2 separate regions of the Homo sapiens genome follow, and region 1 is linked to region 2. Evidence: fine-mapped expression QTL. A gene starts in region 2. The other region holds a variant in brackets. All regions are shown on one strand. Distances are between the middles of the regions.

The links. PIP is the estimated chance that this variant, and not a neighbour inherited with it, causes the effect.
Region 1: its variant is fine-mapped to the expression of NDUFB9 in whole blood (TOPMed, PIP above 0.99).

Annotation. Positions count from the first base shown.
Region 1 is chr8:124,555,136-124,563,819 of GRCh38, reverse strand. MTSS1 (MTSS I-BAR domain containing 1) reads left to right here. Exons shown (of 14, transcript NM_014751.6): 10 at 828-1,038; 11 at 5,945-6,139; 12 at 7,415-7,588; 13 at 7,916-8,078. Among named protein-coding and RNA genes, the nearest start is that of NDUFB9, 20 kb to the right of the region's middle. RefSeq lists a silencer at 1,755-1,844. The variant G/A (reference allele first, on the strand shown) is at 4,578.
Region 2 is chr8:124,534,183-124,543,598 of GRCh38, reverse strand. It overlaps NDUFB9 (NADH:ubiquinone oxidoreductase subunit B9), which reads right to left and starts at 4,476. Exons shown (of 4, transcript NM_005005.3): 1 at 4,312-4,476; 2 at 320-512. The coding sequence starts at 4,412. It overlaps TATDN1 (TatD DNase domain containing 1), which reads left to right and starts at 4,514. Exons shown (of 12, transcript NM_032026.4): 1 at 4,514-4,574. The coding sequence starts at 4,553. RefSeq lists an enhancer at 4,584-4,653.

The DNA of each region.
Region 1 (8,684 bases), 21 kb before region 2:
AAGGCAGACAGAAATCCAGAGCGGGTGTGTCATTATTTGACATCCTGTTTACTGTGCCATTTCAAGAGCAAACAGCTGAGCATTGATTGCCCTTAGTCGCTGAAAGCTGCCTGCCTCTTGCCAAGTGTGCTATTGTGCCAGACCCACAGATATTTTAACACAGAAACAGCTGGGGTCAGAGTAAAAACATTAATTAAAGCATCACTTTGTTAAAAGGTAAAACATATGCACACCAACATAGTGAGTTGATTTGCTGATGTTCTTGACAGCGGGCTTGACCAGACTCAGCTAGGATGAAATCACCTCAGCAAATCCATCGGCAGTGCTTAGCTGGGTTGGCCTTGGTCATGTGGACCCAGATGGTCCATCCAAGAACATTCCAGTCATGCTGAAGCCCCAGTGGACTTTTGCTGCAGGCTCATGGTTCCTGCAGGCAGATTAACCCTGTCCCTTTTCTTGCTACTGACATCAGCTCCCCTCGTTTTGGTGGTAGGCGAAGCAGCAGAGTTGGGCGCACTTGACGTTTTAGAACCCCAGACCTCCCTCGTAAGAATGCCACATGGTTACCATCGGAGACCTGAGTCCTGGCAGCTGTATTTCCCCCTGGGTCACCTGGAAAAGCATTTTGTTGACTACCTTCATGATTTGGTGTTTTGAAAACGTGTTTTGTGGTTTGCACTGCATCTCCAGGGCAGAGAGCTAATTGCATTATGTTGTGCTTCTCTCTCTTCTGCCTCATCTGTTCCCCTCCTTCCTCCTTCCTCTTACCACTGCTCCCCTTTCTTTACCTTCCGTGCCCACCCCTCACCCCTGCTTGTCCTCCACAGCAGCCTGAACAGTGTCAACAGCAGTGACTCCCGGTCCAGCGGCTCCCACTCGCATTCCCCCAGCTCACATTACCGCTACCGCAGCTCCAACCTGGCCCAGCAGGCTCCTGTGAGGCTGTCCAGCGTGTCCTCCCATGACTCAGGATTCATATCCCAGGATGCCTTCCAGTCCAAGTCACCATCCCCCATGCCGCCAGAGGCCCCCAACCAGGTAAGGGTGCCCTTGGCTCCAGGAGCAGCTGTCACACCTGGTGTCCTGACCACTGTCAGTGGCCAGAACCAAAGAAGCACCTTGGCTTAGACAATCCCCTGCCCACTGACTTGAGAAACCTCTGGTTTAATTTCTCATCTTTAGATGTATTGTTCCCCTAAAGGGAGAGGTGCTATAAGTGGGTTTGAAGCCTGTCTCCATGGTGGTAATGGTTGCATTACCACATCGATTTGGGGAGCTCTCACGTAAGTAGATGGATTGAAAGAGGTTTGACCACTCTCAGGCGTCCCTGTAAGTGCCCAGCTTGGCATAATTAAATGCTATAATTAAAGGGCATTGCACAATGGGGACACCTCCTCCCCCACATCTCAGGTTCTCCCTGAATGGCTGAGATTCTATGGTTGAATAGCGCTTCCGATACCATCCCTTGGCGCTCTCAGGTTCCTTTTATCAATCTGTGTTGAGAATGAGAATGAATCATCAGAGCTTCTGCACATAATTCTGTTGGCACTTAGATTCTGGAAGGGAAGGTGTGGCAGAATCTCTTCAACTACAGCTGGGTTTAATGGTGCTAGGCCCAGCCCAGCCCAGTGGTTCCAGCTGGAGCAGAACGCAGGAGCTGGCCAGGGCATCTGAACACTCTTCATGTGCATCATCAATGTATGTGATCCTCTCTCTGTCCTCTCTCCCTTAGTGTCATTGGGTTGGTGTCGGCCTTGAACTTGGCAAGTAGCTCTACATACAGAATGCTGGGTGCCCCACAGCCCCACCTGCTGGGAAACCCATGTCAGAGCTCTGCGTTCCTCTCCTCACAGCTCAGCGCTCCCATTAGCATTTTTCAGCCATCCTGGGGACTGTGGCCTCTGTCTGCCTTCCTTGGATACACACTCAATTTTAAACGCACTCAGAGCCAAGAGCCACGGCTATAGTTTGAGAGTGCTTGAGAGTGCGTGTCCCACCTGGGGTGCTTGGCTTGGTCTGTAAGGAGCTCCTCTTCCCCGCTGTGTGCTTCACTAAACCATATGTGCTGCTCACAAGCAGAGAGGGCAAAGGGTCGGGAGGAGGGCTGGAATGTGCAGTTCCTCCGGGCTGTTCTAGTGTGCAGCATAATTGTGTGTGTGTGTTTAATTGACAAATTAACATAGTAGTGTGCACTGACGCCCCTTTCTGAAAAGGAGAAGCCACGTGCTGCAGCCTTCCCTTCCAAGACTGTGAGTGTGGATGGGGTAGAACAGAGTGTTTCCCATGGCATGGAGGGAAGCAGAAGAGGGCATATTGGGTTTACTTAAATCTGAAAACCTGTGCCCAAGACATGCGTGGCTAGCAACTCTAGGGTAGCTTTTTGTTTTGTCATGTTATGTTTTTAAGACAGTCTCGCTTTGTCACCCCAGGCTGGAGTGCAGTGGTGCAATGTTGGCTCACTGTAACCTCCACCTCCTGGGTTCAAGCGATTCTCCTGCCTCAGCCTCCCAAGTAGCTGGGATTACAGGCACGCGCCACCATTCCCAGCTAACTTTTGTATTTTTAGTAGAGGTGGGCTTTTGCCAGGCTGGTCAGGCTGACCTCAGGTGATCCGCCCACCTCGGTCTCCCAAAATTCTGGAATTACAGGCATGAGCCACCGCGCCCGGCCACTAGGGTAGTTTTAATGAGCTCAGGGATGCTACAAAACTTAATAGAGAATTCTTATTTTTTAAGAAAGGCATTACGACTGCTTATTATTATAAGGTAAAGGGGAAATTGAAGGTCATTGTACAGATCACATTAGCCAGAGGGTACAATCTCCTGAAGGCAGTAACCTCCCCTTTATTAGGGAGAAAGGGGGCATACATCTAGGAGGCGCAGGAGCCCTTCATTTCTCTACTGAGTAACACAGGTCTGAGATGAAAGCCGAGTGATGGAATTTGTTCAGAATTCTCTGGTTTACCTCCCTCCACTCTTCAAATTGTGCCCTCACCCATCTGTGCCCAGGAGTGGGGCCATGTCTTCAATGAGGGTCTCACCCTAGAGCCATTTATTCCATCTGAGTCAAGAGGTTCTTTATAAAAAATGAGCATAATTCCAAAGAAATCTGAACCTGCAGTCCTGCGGTGGGTTACTGTTTTGTTGTTTTATTTTTGTTCGTTTTTTTTGAGACAGGGTCTCACTCTGTTGCCCAGGATGAAGTGCAGTGGCGGGATCATAGGTCACTGTAACCTTGAACTCCTGGATTCAGGCAATTCTCCTACCTCAGCCTACCAAGTAGCTGGGACTATAGGCATGTGCCACCATGCTTGGCTAATTTTATTTTAGATTTGAGAATACATGTGCCTTGCATACTGGTGAGGATTGGGCTTCTATTTCCATTACCCAAATAGTGAGCATTGTCTCTGATAGGCAATTTTTCAACCCTCACTCCTTTCCTCTTTTACATTTTTTATTTTTTGTAGAGATGAGGTCTTGCTATCTTGCCCAGGCTGTTCTCCAATTCCTAGCCTCAAGCAGTCTTCCTGCCTTGGCCTCCCAAAGTGCCAGGATTACAGGCATGAGCCACCACATCTGGCTGTTTTTTGTTGATAAAGCCCTCTAAACCTCAAATTTTTTAAGTTCAGTTTCTCGACTGGGAATTGGCACAAATGTGACTTAAATCCAAACCTTCCATCTTCAAATCCTGGGCTGCTAACCAGACACTGAGCTCAGAGTGCAGCTGGGATGTCCGTCCACCGTGGAGTCTCTCCTTGCTTTGGGTCCACTGAGCCCCACACATTGTTGAGTGTCTGATTGTCTCCTTGCCCTTACAGGACAGGAAAGCGAAATCTCTGTTCCTTTGTAGGGACCTTTCTTTTGTAGGTGAAAGGGACAGAAATATGATTCTGGCCTCCTTGATGGTGAATACAGGAACACTTTCAGATAAATTACAATAGAGAGGAGTCAGCTTATTTAAACAAACTGAGGTTAAGCCAGAGATTGCAGTTAACAGTGAAAAAATTTAAAGCAAGTACCTGGATGGATGCAAAGCAGTGCCCAGGAGACCCAACTTACGTGACAGAGATGATCATTGTCACTCATTCATTATGTTTTGAGCACCAGCCATGTGCCAGGTCCAGAACTAGAAGAAACTTGGGTGTAGGTGAGATCATAGGAACAGTCCCTGCCCCAGCTGAACATCAGGAAGCCAGACTGGGAGCGCATGCCGTGGCTGACTAGGACTCCAGCAGGGACCTGGGGTTCCATCAGATCAGTGTAAAGCGATGGTTTCCCAAATGAGACCTCTCCAGAGATGGTTCATTCCACCCCACAATGGCCACCAGAAACATTGTGCTGACCAGAGGGCTTCACTGCCCCAAACCCCAAAATCACACTCCAGGATGAGAAACCTAAAAGTCTGTCTTGATGAGGCTTCATAGCTGGAAACCACCCCTCATGGATCCACAGGCTGCATTTGATGAAAGGAGACTCCAGGAAGTCGAGCCATTCCAGGCAGACATGTAGCAAAAGCCCGAGCTGGGGTCCGCCCTCATGCAATAAATAACACCTATGCACATAAGAGAGGTGACAGGC[G/A]GGGCCTCCCTGGGGACCTGGGCCTGTGGCACGTGAAGAAACACCCAAGAGAGCACGAAGTCCCAATGCCATGACCAGATATTTCGGTGCCAGGCATGCTTCTGGGTCCCAGCAAAAGACACACAAATCCGTGTCCTTGGGGACCCACAGTCTAGTGACCTAGGGCTGGCCGGGTCGCACGCTTCTTTTCAAGGGCTCGAAAGCCTCTGCATGGATGCAACTTTGGGGGAAAAGTAACCCTAACCCTCTGCTTCTCTCATCCTCCCCTCTTCTGTGTATATGTCTGTCTCTTTCTCTCTGTGTGTGCCCTTCCCCACTCCCATCCCCATTCCTTTTTTTATTTATTATATTTTGGTGGTGTGTGGCTCGGTTTCTGTTGGTCCCCTCGTGTGGCCCCTCCCCTGCTGCAGAACTCGTCCAGCTCGGCCTCCTCCGAAGCCTCGGAAACCTGCCAGTCAGTGAGCGAGTGCAGCTCCCCCACCTCTGTCAGCTCGGGCTCCACCATGGGTGCCTGGGTGTCCACAGAGAAGGTGACCGCCCGGGTGGCAGCCACAGCGGCCCCACTCTCCCTGGTCCCCCTGCCTGCTGCTCAGACAGCCCTCACAGCCGCGGCAACCTGGAAGCTCAGAATCGACACCAAGAGTGGGGCTCCTCTTGGGGACAGAGGGTGGGACAAGGCTGAGGGCATTTTCTAGAATGAGTGCCTGGCTGCTGGACAATGACCACATGGTTGTCTCAAGGGAGAGGAAGGGGTATGGGGAATTTGGAGGTGTGAAGGCTTTCTCCCAGACCAGGTGTTGCGTGCCTGTCCATCCTCCTCCCTCCCTTCCCGAGCCACCCACCAGACCGTTGGATGAGCCATGTCACTGTGTCAGAGGCTGTGTGCTTTTCCGCTTTTTAGTTTGCACCCCCACCCCCCTGCCCTTGATTGAGAATGTGCTCCTGAGCAATGCGATGATTTTGGAAACCTAGAATGAACAGATTCATTTGAAGATGCTTTGGAATTTTTAAATTTGCATAATGAAATGAGCAAATCACTATCACCATTAAATGAGGCTTCATTAGTTACATTATCAAAAACCATTGACAAGGCCACAAATTGAGGGCACTGATCAATTTCCAAACTTCTAAAACGTAGGTCAAACATAGATGCTTATTTGCTGTCAAACTCATGTGCATTCTTTGCACCCCGGCTCTTTTCTCTTGCATCACAGATCATCCGTGAGCAGCAGAGCCCCAATGTTTGTTTTATTTATAAATATTCAGGTTTCCCCTCCCTTGAATGTCAATGCCATTTTGTATCTCCGCACTCATCCTGTTATATTAATTTTTTTTCCTTCCCCCCCCCTTTTTTTGTTTGTTTCCAGTTGTCTAACGGGTTTTCTCACTATAGTTTATCAAGTGAGTCCCACGTGGGGCCCACGGGTGCAGGCCTTTTCCCTCATTGCCTGCCTGCCTCCCGCCTGCTCCCTCGGGTCACCTCTGTCCACCTTCCAGACTACGCTCATTATTACACCATTGGGCCCGGCATGTTCCCGTCATCTCAGATCCCTAGCTGGAAGGTTTGTGTCTCTCCCCCTCCTCCTCTCCCCGTCATTGCCTCTGTGCTCACCCCTCTTCTGTTCCAACCCCCTCACCCCGACTATCCCCTCATCCCCTTCCTTTCACACTCTGCCTTCTTCCCCATAATGCCTCTCCCTCAGGAAACTCCCATTGGGGGAGAAGCAGAAAGCAGCCGGCAGCTCTAAGACAGCAATTTCCACAGGTAGCTGGGGCTGAGGGTCTTCCTTCAGGGGACTTTGGTCAATCCCTGATGGACGGCAGTGCAGTGTGCACCGCAGGCAGCGGCAATTCCAAGTCCAAAGGCCCAGTTTTGCATCAAGTTGAAATCTATGGGTTGGTCCCTCCCGGGGGCCACCTGAGGGTGTCAGCATGATCAGAGCTTCTAGGGGGTTTAGGGGGGACTTTCCTTCTGGCCATGTTTCCCATTTTCCCTAATGAGCTCCCTGCTGGGCTGTGGTAACAGAACCATAACCCAAAGCAGGTTTGGGGTGATCATGTTGAACTTAACAGTACACGCAGACTTTAGTTTTAGTCTTGAGTGTTCAAACATGTTTGCTTTAATATAAAGACGAACTTTGAAAATGATCCCCTAGCAAGTCCGATCAATGCTCCTCCAGGAGGATAATCTGCTCTCTTTTGAGAGGAGGACCCTAATTTGAAAAGTAGGCCCCTTGGCTGCCAGCGTTTTAAGCAGGTTTTGACTTTAGCCCTCACAGGCGGTGTGGGCCTCTCAAGGCTTCTCGGAATCTTTCTACTGCCCCTGGGCGCCTTCCTTTCCTTCTGAGGGCTTGAGAGGGCAGGGAGCCTGCCATGCCCTTTGAGGCTGGTTTCCTGGGAATGGAGGGAGAAGGGCTGATGTTGCTTTAGTGCTCGCTGGTGGCCATTCCCCTAACGGGAAGCCATCTGGGTTGTTAAGGAGCGCTGGTCCCTTCAGACAGGAGAAGCACGATGTACTGCCCACTGGTGGGTCCCCTTAGCTTACACCGGTCACCTGTTAGGTGGCTGCCGGGTCTCCTGCTGCCACCTGGTGGGTGAGGGTTTTTAATCTTTGGGCAGAGACGAGGAAAAGGGAGGTACACAGGGGGCTCCCAAAGGGTTTCCATTCCTTGCCCTTTAGAGCCTGGAGAGGGCATGCAGAGGGCCTGTGGCTTGTCCCAGCCGGAGGTTCCCCTTAAGGGGACCAGCTGCCTTCTCTGGGGAGCTGTCTATGGGGTCCCCGCAGCCCTCCAGTGGAGGCAGAGGCCCTGGCTCCTGACCGCACTTGTTTTGCATAGGACTGGGCTAAGCCTGGGCCCTATGACCAGCCTCTGGTGAACACCCTGCAGCGCCGCAAAGAGAAGCGAGAACCGGACCCCAACGGGGGAGGACCCACTACCGCCAGCGGCCCACCTGCAGCAGCTGAGGAGGCTCAGAGACCACGGAGCATGACTGTATCGGCTGCCACCAGGGTGATGCTCTTGTTCTCAGTAGCTGGTTGGGGCCACCTCAGCCTGGCTGGGGATCACATTCTGGCCAGCAACTGGGGGGCCAAGGCAGCCTTGCAGCTGGAGGGACCTGGGCTCCATTCCCTGACTTCCTGCTCTACAGCAAAGTCCCTGGGAAAAAAACCTTGTGTGGGAATGAGAGAGGCAGAACTTTCTAGGGTCAGAGTGGGACCCAAGCAAGTCAATAGCCCCCTGGCCCCACAGACATGTAGTGCTCACGGGGGCAGAACAGGAGTGCTGTTGAGCCCCCCCCCTAAAGCAACCTGTGTATTTCTCTCCTCCAACCTGCAGCCTGGTGAGGAGATGGAGGCTTGTGAGGAGCTGGCCCTGGCCCTGTCTCGGGGCCTGCAGCTGGACACCCAGAGGAGCAGCCGGGACTCGCTTCAGTGCTCCAGCGGCTACAGCACCCAGACAACCACCCCCTGCTGCTCTGAGGACACCATCCCTTCCCAAGGTACGAGGCAGCCTGGGGTGTGCACTTAGGCTTTCTGAGCAGCACCAGGTGAGGAGATAGAAAACTGCTGGTCCATTTTAACCACAACCCACCACTCGCTAACTAACAGGTGTCAGGATTGTTTTCGTCATCTGGGAATGCTTTGGGGAGCTCATCTGTAGTTGTCAGGTAGCTGCCATATAAGAAAGGGATCTGGGGTCGGGCGCAGTGGCTCACGCCTGTAATCCCAGCACTTTGGGAGGCCAAGGCAGGTGGATCACGAGGTCAGGAGATCGAGACTATCCTGGCTAACATGGTGAAACCCCATCTCTACTAAAAATACAAAAAAATTAGCCGGGCGTGGTGGCAGGCGCCTGTAGTCCCAGCTACTCAGGAGGCTGAGGCAGGAGAATGGCGTGAACCCAGGAGGCAGAGCTTGCAGTGAGCTGAGATCGCGCCACTGCACTCCAGCCCGGGTGACAGAGCAAGACTCTGTCTCAAAAAAAAATAATAATAAATAAAGGGATCTGGACTTTCACAGCTTTTTGCGTTTTGCAGCATCATATACAGCAGTCTCCAATTTGAATGGAGACATGTGCTGTAATAAGAATAGCTTCAGGCCAGGGC
Region 2 (9,416 bases):
TAAAAAAAAGTTTGAAATATTGCAAGAATTGCCAAACTGAGAAACAGAGACAGGGAGTGAGCACATGCTGTTGGAAAAATGGTGCCCACAGACTTGCTCAGCACGGGGTTGCCACAAACTTTCAATCTGTGAAAATACAATATCTGCCAAGCACAATAAAACAAAATGCAATAAAATGAGGTAGGCCTGCATCTGACAACTGTCAGGAAATAAGTCTCCTAGCTACCCCTTGAAGGGCAAGTGATTTCTGAGGCTGAGGTGTGGGACTGAAGAAACAAAGTCTATTTCTCAGAAGGCAGTCATCATAATTCTCACCTACCTTGTAGCAATCGTATCTCTCATAGGAGGTGCCCCCAGGAGAGTCAGGGAAGATGTATGGCTGTGGATGCTGACGGTACCAGAATTCTTCCTCGGCCTCCTTCAGCAGCTGGGTGGCCTTCGCCATATCCTTTTCATTCTTATGTTCTTCAAACCGGGCTCTCATCAAACAAGCAAAGTATCGGTATTTGTCTCTTAAACCAAAATGATTTTGAAGATTAGAAATGTTACCTACTCACGTGGTCAGTGTTGCTGTCTGACAGGAGGCTGCACTTCTGATACCTTCTGGATGGGCAGTGGACCTACCCCAACCCTCCCAATGGAGCAGCCGTATCATCATGGCTGCTTCCTCTACAGCCCACCAAACAGCAGCAGCAAAAAAATACTGTATTAAATATATACCCTAACCATTTTTCTCCTCTTACATCCAACAATGGAATGAGGATTTAAACAAAAAAAAAAAAAAAAAAAAAGAAAAGAGCATTCGCAAGAGAAAAGCTATAACCTCTGCAGGATCATTCAACATTCATTGAATGACAACTTCCATTTCCTTCTATCTTGTGCTAGTCACTATGCTAAATTCTGGAGATACAAAGATGAATAAGAAAGGTGTTACTTGGCAGAAACAGTATTGCTTAGCTCATACAGAGCTAGGTTTGTATCCTGACTCTGACACTAGCTGCATAAACTTAGGCAAGTTAAAGTCAAGTTCTAAAGAAACTGGGCAAAGATCAGTTAGGAGGTTTTGACAATAATCTAGGACACAGCTGACGAGGGCCTGAAAGTACGGAGCTGTGATGGTGACAGGAGACAGGGGAGACATTGAGACTTCCAAGTTATGAGAATAGGCTCTCCAGTCAGACTGTATGGGCCTGAATCTTAGCTCTGCCACTACTAGCTGTGTAACTTGGGGTAAGTTACTGTCTTCTGGTCAGGTGCGGTGGCTCACACCTGTAATCCCAGCACGTTGGGAGGCCAAGGCGTGTGGATCACCTGAGGTCTGGAGTTCAAGACAAGCCTGATCAACATGGAGAAACCCCGTCTCTACTAAAAATACAAAAATGAGGCCGGGCATGGTGGCTCACGCCTGTAATCCCAGCACTTTGGGAGGCCAAGGCAGGGGGATCATCTGAGGTGAGGAGTTCTACACCAGCCTGGCCAACATGGTGAAATCCCGTCTCAGCTAAAAATACAAAAACTAGCCGGGCGTGGTGGCAGGCACCTGTAATCCCAGCTACTCTGGGGGCCAAGGCAGGAGAATAGCTTGAACCCGGGAGGCAGAGGTTGCAGTGAGTCGAGATTGTGCCATTTGCACTCCAGCCTGGGGGACAAGAGCGAGACTTCATCTCAAAAAAAAACAACAACAACAACAACAAAAAGGCCAGGCACGGTGGCTCACGCCTGTAATCCCAGCACTTTGGGAGGCTGAGGTGGAGGTCACCTGAGGTCAGGAGTTCAAGACCAGCCTGGCCAACATGGCAAAACCCCGTCTCTACTAAAAATACAAAAATTAGCCAGGCGTGGTGGCGCATGCCTGTAATCCCAGCTACTCGGGAGACTGAGGCAGGAGAATTGCTTGAACCCGGGAGACGGAACTTGCGGTGAGCCAAGATCGCGCCACTGCACTCCAGCCTGGGCAACATAAGCGAAACTCCGTCTAACAAAAAAACAAACAAAAAAAGTCTTCTAGGCCACGGGTTCCTCCTCTGTAAAACAGTGGCAATAACAGTGTGTATATCTTAAGGTTGTCATAAACAGTCAATAAGATAAACACACTTTAAAAAGTGCCTGGTACATCCCAAGTGTTAAATAATGTCAGTTACTAATATCATACTGGAAAGAGAATTTATAAAAACCAGTGTCTAATTATACATGGTGTATGAGTATGTGTGTTATTGGCAAAGGAATAAGGAGCAAATACTTGAGAACAATTCTGAGACTTAAAGCTCAGTAACTGAATTACTAATAATACCATTAGCGGAGGCAGGGAATTTGGGAAAAGAGTCAGAATGGGGAGTGACAGGAAAACAAGTTTGATTTCAAAGAATTTAGATAAATGGAGATTGAGAGAACGGTTGGTGATCTTTTCAATTTTTTTTTTATTATTATTTTTTGAGACAAAGTTTCACTCTTGTCGCCCAGGCTGGAGTGCAATGGGGCTATCTCGGCTCACTGCAGCCTCTGCCTCCCAGGTTCAAGCGGTTCTTCTGCCTCAGCCTCATGAGTAGCTGGGATTACAGGCACCCACCACCACGCCTGGCTAATTTTTGTATTTTTAGTAGAGACGCGGTTTCACATGTAGGCCAGGCTGTTGAACTCCTGGCCTCAGGTGATCCACTCACCTCAGCCTCCCAAAGTACTGGGATTATAGGCGTGAGCCATCATGCCCAGCCAACAGTCGTGATCTAACAAGCAATTCGAACTACAGCTCTAGAGACAAATGAGCGCAGGTGGTGACAGCACTAAATGAGGCTGCCCGAGTACATACAACAACACAGTATGCCTAGGATGGAACCACAGAGAACAGCACAATGAGGGCAAATGGAGGAAGAAATTAAGGCAAGGATTGAGAAAGAATGTCAGATCTAAAAAATGCTGAGCCATAACTGTCATAGTAGCTAGTTTATATCATTTTCCTCTAGAACTATGGACTTTAGTATTCCCAGCTATAGTTCAGTATTGCTTGAATTCTTTTTTTCATGTTTAACTTTTTTTGACACATAATTATTGTACCTATTTATGGGGTACATGTGATATTTTAATACATCCATATAATGTATAATGATCAAATCAGGGTAATTTGGATATTCATCACCTCAAACATTTACCATTTGTGTTGGGATACCTGAATCCCTGATGGCTCAACTTCCTTCATCATCGATTTGTTTACATGTCCATTTTCCCCACTAATCCGTGAGCTGCTGCTGCTCAAAAATGGATTTACTAACATTTATATATTTAGCATAGAGCATAGAATCTGAATTGCAAATTCTGTCAAATCAATAAATAAATAAGGAAAACTCAAGGAAGAAACTAACAATCCCATCACATTGTACTTGGCCATCTTCCTGCCAAATCAAGAGAAGTATGTCAGTGATTTTCTAATAGTCACATATATGCAATCTGGGCTTCGAGGGTACCCTCTGTAATTCTTCCAGGCCTACTCCATTTTCCATAGAGTTTTTTTCCCAGAAGGCCTTCTTATAAAACTACGTTTGGAGAGTCGTAAGACTGGAGTGGAGGCGAGGCACTCACACATCTTGGGTTGTTAGCCCACCCTGCAATGAATTTAGGTGATTAAAATCTACACATTTTAACACTATGTTCTCAGACTAGTCTCAGACGGATAGAGGTCGAAAGAGAATTATGTAAGAGGTGAAAAAGATGTAAAGGTAATGAAAAGGACTAGATGAAGCTAAAAAGAGAAAAGCTAATGGGAGGGGTGGGAGAATGATGATGCTTTGGAGAAAGACCTAAATTTTAACCCTGGCTCAGACACTTAGAAACTCTATCACCTTGCGCAAGTTACCAGCTGTGCTCATCTTCTTATCTGTAAAATAAGCTTAAGATAATTCCTAACTCCTAGAGTTTTGCAGACTGAAGAAAATAATGCATAGTTTATTGCTGTTAATATTGGAAAGGAGAAGATCGTGAAGAAAACGATTGAGCGAGCGCTGGACCCATGACAATTACAATTTTAGGCACTTTCCTTTATTTCACTTAATTTTCCTGCGACCCTCTGCGCTGGTCGTGCGTCCGTTTTACTAAACAAAAAGCTGACGCCCAGACCCGACAAGCAACTCTACAAGGTCTCCCGGCCATAAGTGGCGAAGCCTGGATTTGAACCCGGGTCTACCATAGGATTCTGTGAAGCGAGAGGCCACCTTCCAATTCCGTTCCCGAAGTCCTTGAACCTCCAGGTACCCAGGGGCCTCTCCACCTCCATGGGGCCCCGAGGGTCACCTCCCCGAGTCCTGGGTCCCCATCCCTTACCTCTGGACGCACCACGACTCGAGGTGGCGTAGCGCCCGCTTATAAAGCCGCAACACCTTTTGCTGATGGGTCAGGTAGGGTCCCGACGCCAAGAACGCCATTACGGCGCTGACCTTCCCCGGCCGCGCGGAGAGCCGGGAAACTGCACGCCTGCTGCGGGTGACTGAGCGGGGCCAGCCGGAAGGGCGGAGTTGCCGGCGGCCACTTCCGCTTCCGCTGGGGAGGTCCTCCATGCGCAGTCATGAGTCGCTTCAAGTTTATCGGTAAGAGGAGCGTTTTCCACGCCCTTGGGTCTTTCTGACTTGTCCCGGGCGTCGGTCACCAAGGTCACAGGACCCAGGAATTGCGCCCTCCGGCATTGTAAGGGTTGAAAGGGCCGCTCAGTGGAGGAGGGCGCGGGGAGGTTTCTGGGTGCTGGTAATGCTCTGGTTCTTGATCTAGGTTCTGGATTCACGAGGGTGTATTTATTTGTAAAAATTAACAAGCCGTACAGTTATGATTTTTGTGCTGTTTTCAACATCTGTAATGTATTCAGTTTTTTAAGAAGAAAACTCCAAAAAGGCCAATCACTATGTTTCCATTCATCCCACGTGCACCTCCCGGCCCTTCCCCTCTGCCTTGGCGGAGAGGCTGACCGCTTCTGGGGACCAATTCACTCAAGCATTCATTCGTTCATATCATAGTTAGTGAGCGCCTCAAGTGGGCCTGGCACTGGCCTAGGAACACAGGGCACAAAGCTCCCAGTTGTACTGTCATCACCATCTGGTGGAGAAACTAGAAAACACAAGTAATGGGGAGAAAAACAAACTGTACTTGGCAAGTACAATGATCCAGTCGGCATCAGTAGAACGAGAGGGAGAATGCTGCGGGATTTAAATGGGCATGATCCTCGTTTTGTGGGGTTTCCAGCTACCTGAAGGTGGGAAATGACAGTGATCACACCTCTGCTTTAGCAAGGTAATCCTGATAGCTATTATGTAGGTTTTGTGGGAAATAGGGAGAGGTAGGGAAGCATTTCAAGAGCTTAAACTAGGGTAATGGAAAAGAGAGAGAAATGGAAGAGATGTGTGCAGCATTTAGCAGCTGAGTGTTCATGGCCGGTAGTAGAGAGTGAACAAAGATGACTCAGGGTTTGGAAAAGTACTTAAATATGAAATGGAAGCATGACTAGTTTGGCGGTGAAGAGAGGTACCCAGGTCCATTTGGATTAGGTTAAGTTTGAGATAATTATAGGACATCCAGGTAGAGATATCTGGGCAATTGGGAATGTGGTCTGGCAATCAAGAGATTAGGATTATACATTTAGATCTGAGAGTTATTTAAGCAGTATTTTTTTTTTTCAAAGACGTTGTGCTAAGTCCTGTGGAACTGTAAAATCTAGTGGTGCAGTTTTCAGACTGGAGACCTAAGACCTATGTACTGTACAGTCAAAAGCAAATGCAGGGGAGAATATGTTAAGTGCCAGGAAAAAGGTTTTGAAATTGCTGTGGGAAAGCCTGGAGTAGGGGTTTGGGGAGGGGTTGTCAAATAAGACATTGCCGTGTCTTAGCCTTTCCATCCTAACCTTTGATATAATTGATGAGGGAGATGGAATAAAGAGCCATGAAGTACTCCGTAAAGAAAGGCCACATAACTTTTTAAAAGTGTGTTTATGTTATACAACCAAATTCCTGCCTCAAGTTAATGTCTTAAATCCATCCTCCATGTAGACTCCATTTTGGTGTATCTAAAAATCAAATCAGCTAAATGTTTCTTTTGCTTCAAATCTTTCATTTACGCTCCTCAGGATAGCCTAAATGCTTACACACCATACAAAGCCCTTCTGTGGTCCAGTCCTGCCCACTTTTCTAGCCCATCCCTGGGCTGCTCTATAAACACTTGTGCATGCTGTTTGTTACCTCTGACAAGGTTTTAGAGTGGCAGTTTGGGGCCAAAATATTCCTCTGCCTACCAACTACCCTGTTGCCTGTCTGCCTACTCACTCCTTAAAACTTATACCACATTATTTATAATTAAATATGAGTATGCCTTTCCCACTAGATCAAACTCTTAAGGCAGATACTGGTATGGTATTTATATTTTTTTCCTAGGGGCGTAGTACAATGACTGTTTGGGAAAGTATGAATGAGTGGCTTTAGTGCTAAGGTGATAAGAAAATTAGTAAAGGGATTAGCATCAGATAAAATAAGCAAGAAAAGACTTCTTAAAGAAGGTGACTTTATTGGAATAAATAATTGAAATAAATTTTTTTCTGTATGGTTTCCTTTAGCCCCACTCTCCTAAAGTAACCATATTAAAAGTTTGAAGTATAGCCTTCCCTAATTTTTTAATAGATTGTTATACAGATTCATAAAAATACAACATATCAAGGTTTTTTTTTTTCCTTTTGAAACAGAAATGAGATCATATTATGCATTCTATCCTTGGTATATGACTTACTCTGATATTTAATCTTTCAGTTTGTGTCATTTAAAAAATTCTGCCCATGAATCGCTAGACTAATTTCTTAGCCTAATAATGAGTTCTGAACAATATTTTGAAAAACATCATATTAAATCCCTGGAACAAGCTTCACATGGGACAATTGCATGAAAAATTGAACCCATTTTATGAAAATTACCTTAGATTTTGGTTTAAGACAGCTGACCATTGTAATTCTTTCTACATTTCTCTCTTTTCTACTTGCATAACAAGTGGCTGCCCCTTAGAACTATACCCCAACAGTGGGGGTTTTTGTTTGTTTTGAGACAGGGTCTTGCTCTGTCACCTAGGCTGGAGTACAGTGGCTTAGATCATGGCTCCAGCATTGACCTCCTAGGCTCAAGTGATCTTCCTGCCTCATCCTCCCAAGTAGCTGAGACTAGAGGTGCTCACCACCATACCAGGCTAATTTTTTTTTGTAGACCACTGTGTCCTGCTATGTTGCTCAGGCTGGTCTTGAATTGCTGGCCTTAAGCAGTCCTTCCACCTCCGCCTCCCAAAGTTCTGGGATTACACGTGGAGCCACTGGCCAGCATGAGAATTTCTTTAGCCCAGCTTATACTCTCTTTTCTGTCTCCACAAGTGGAATTCTATTCCCTGGGTGTTATTTACAAACTCTTCCACTCTCAAAAATACTTCTACCTGTAACTATTATATGCCAGAATCTCTACTGCATTGATCTTAGACTACATAGTACACCAAAAAATGAGAAATATCTGTGCAAGAAGAAAATGCAAAATACAAACAACAGTGAAAATAAAAACATCATATTCCATTCCTGATATAGTTTAGATATTTGTCCCCTCCAAATCTCATGTTAAAATTTGCTCTCCAATGTTGAGGTGGTCCAGTGGGAGGTGTTTGGGTCACTTCCCAACATCCATCTCATGGGGGTGGATCCCTCATGAAAGGCTTGATGGCCTCCCTGTGGTAATGAGTTCACACTGGCTCCCCTTCCCTTTCCACCAGGATTGGAAGCTTACTGAGATCCTCCCAAAAGCAGATGTTGGTGTCATGCATCTTGTACAACCTGCAGAACCATGAGCCAAATACACCTCTTTTCTTTATAAATCACCCAGTCTCAGGTATTCCTTTATAGCAATGCAAAAGCAGATTAATACAGTTCCTCCAAATCACACATAACACCACCATGTCTATCTTTCCAGATCTTCTGTAGGCATACCAAACAAAATAAGATCATACTGAGGCTACTCTTTTGTGCTCTGCTTTTTTCAATCACAGTCTCCACCTTTCCATTTCAGGAAATGTTCATCTTAACTAGTACCAAAATCATACTCAAATTTTTCCTGTTGTTCCAAAAATGTCCCTTGGTGGTCATGTCCAAAATGGTATCCCATTTAGAGCCACACATTTGGTTGTTCCTTAAATTTTTGAATCAAGTGCAGAGGTTTGCAAACTTTTTCCTTAAAGGGCCATATAGTAAATATTTTAGACTTTGAGGGCCACGTGATCTCTATTGCAGCTATTCAACTCTGCCCTTTTGTGTACTGTGATGTAATAGTAAATACGTGTGTGTTCTCTGCTCCCATTTCTTTGTGCACAACTCCTGAAACCCTTGGAATCTCCTAAGTGCTAAGTGTCTTTTTGTATGCTGCTAAGATGACTGATGGCTGGGGGCTCCTGGATAGCCTCAGGATGGGGGTTTGCCTAGGAAAACCCATCATGTGATTAGAGAGTTGGAAGTTTCAGTCCCTCCCACCCACTCCCACTTCTGGGGAAGGGGAGAGAAACTGAAGGTTGAGTTGTTCACTAATGGCCAGTGATTTAATCAATCATACCTACATGGTGAAGCCTCTATAAAAACCCATACATGTCTCTATGTGTCTCTTCCACCTGGCCGTTTTTGAATGGCATCTTTTTACAATGAATGGGTAATAAGTAAAGTGCTTTCCTGAGTTCCGTGAGCTGCTCTAGCAAATGATCAAACCTGAGAAGGGGGTTGTGGGAACCTCTTATTGTAGCCAAGTTAGACAAGTTGTGGGTAACCTGGGAACCTACTGCTTGTAATTGGTATCTGAAATGGGGAGAGTCTTGTGGGACTGAGCCCTTGACCTCTGCGGTCTGATGTTATATCCAGGTAGATAGTGTGAGAATTGAGTTAAATTATAGGTCACCCAGCTGGTGTCAGAGAATTGGTTGTTGGGAGAGGAAACCCCACACATACCTGACGTCAGAAGTGAATCCTCACGCCTGTAATCCAAGCACTTTGGGAGGCCAAGGTGGGAGGACTGCTTGAGCCCGGGAGTTCAAGACCAGCCTGGGCAACAAAGTGAGACCCCATCTCTACTTAAAACAAACAAACAAAAAATTCAGAGTATTGTGAGTATGAGAATACTGTAGGAGAAAGCAGTTTGCATTTTTTCCTATCTCACACCTTGTCATTCAAAAGCAGGTGATAGACAGTATGTAAATAGGTGTGGCTATGTTCCAGTAAAACTTACGGTCACTGAAACTTGAAGTTCTTATAATTTTGATGTGTCACAAAATATTCTTTTGATTTTCTTCAACTATTTAAAAATGTAAAGTCATTCTTAGCTTAGAGGCAAACAAAAGTAGGCAGTGGCTTGTGGGCCTTAGTTTACCAATCCCTTGCTCTAGCGCAT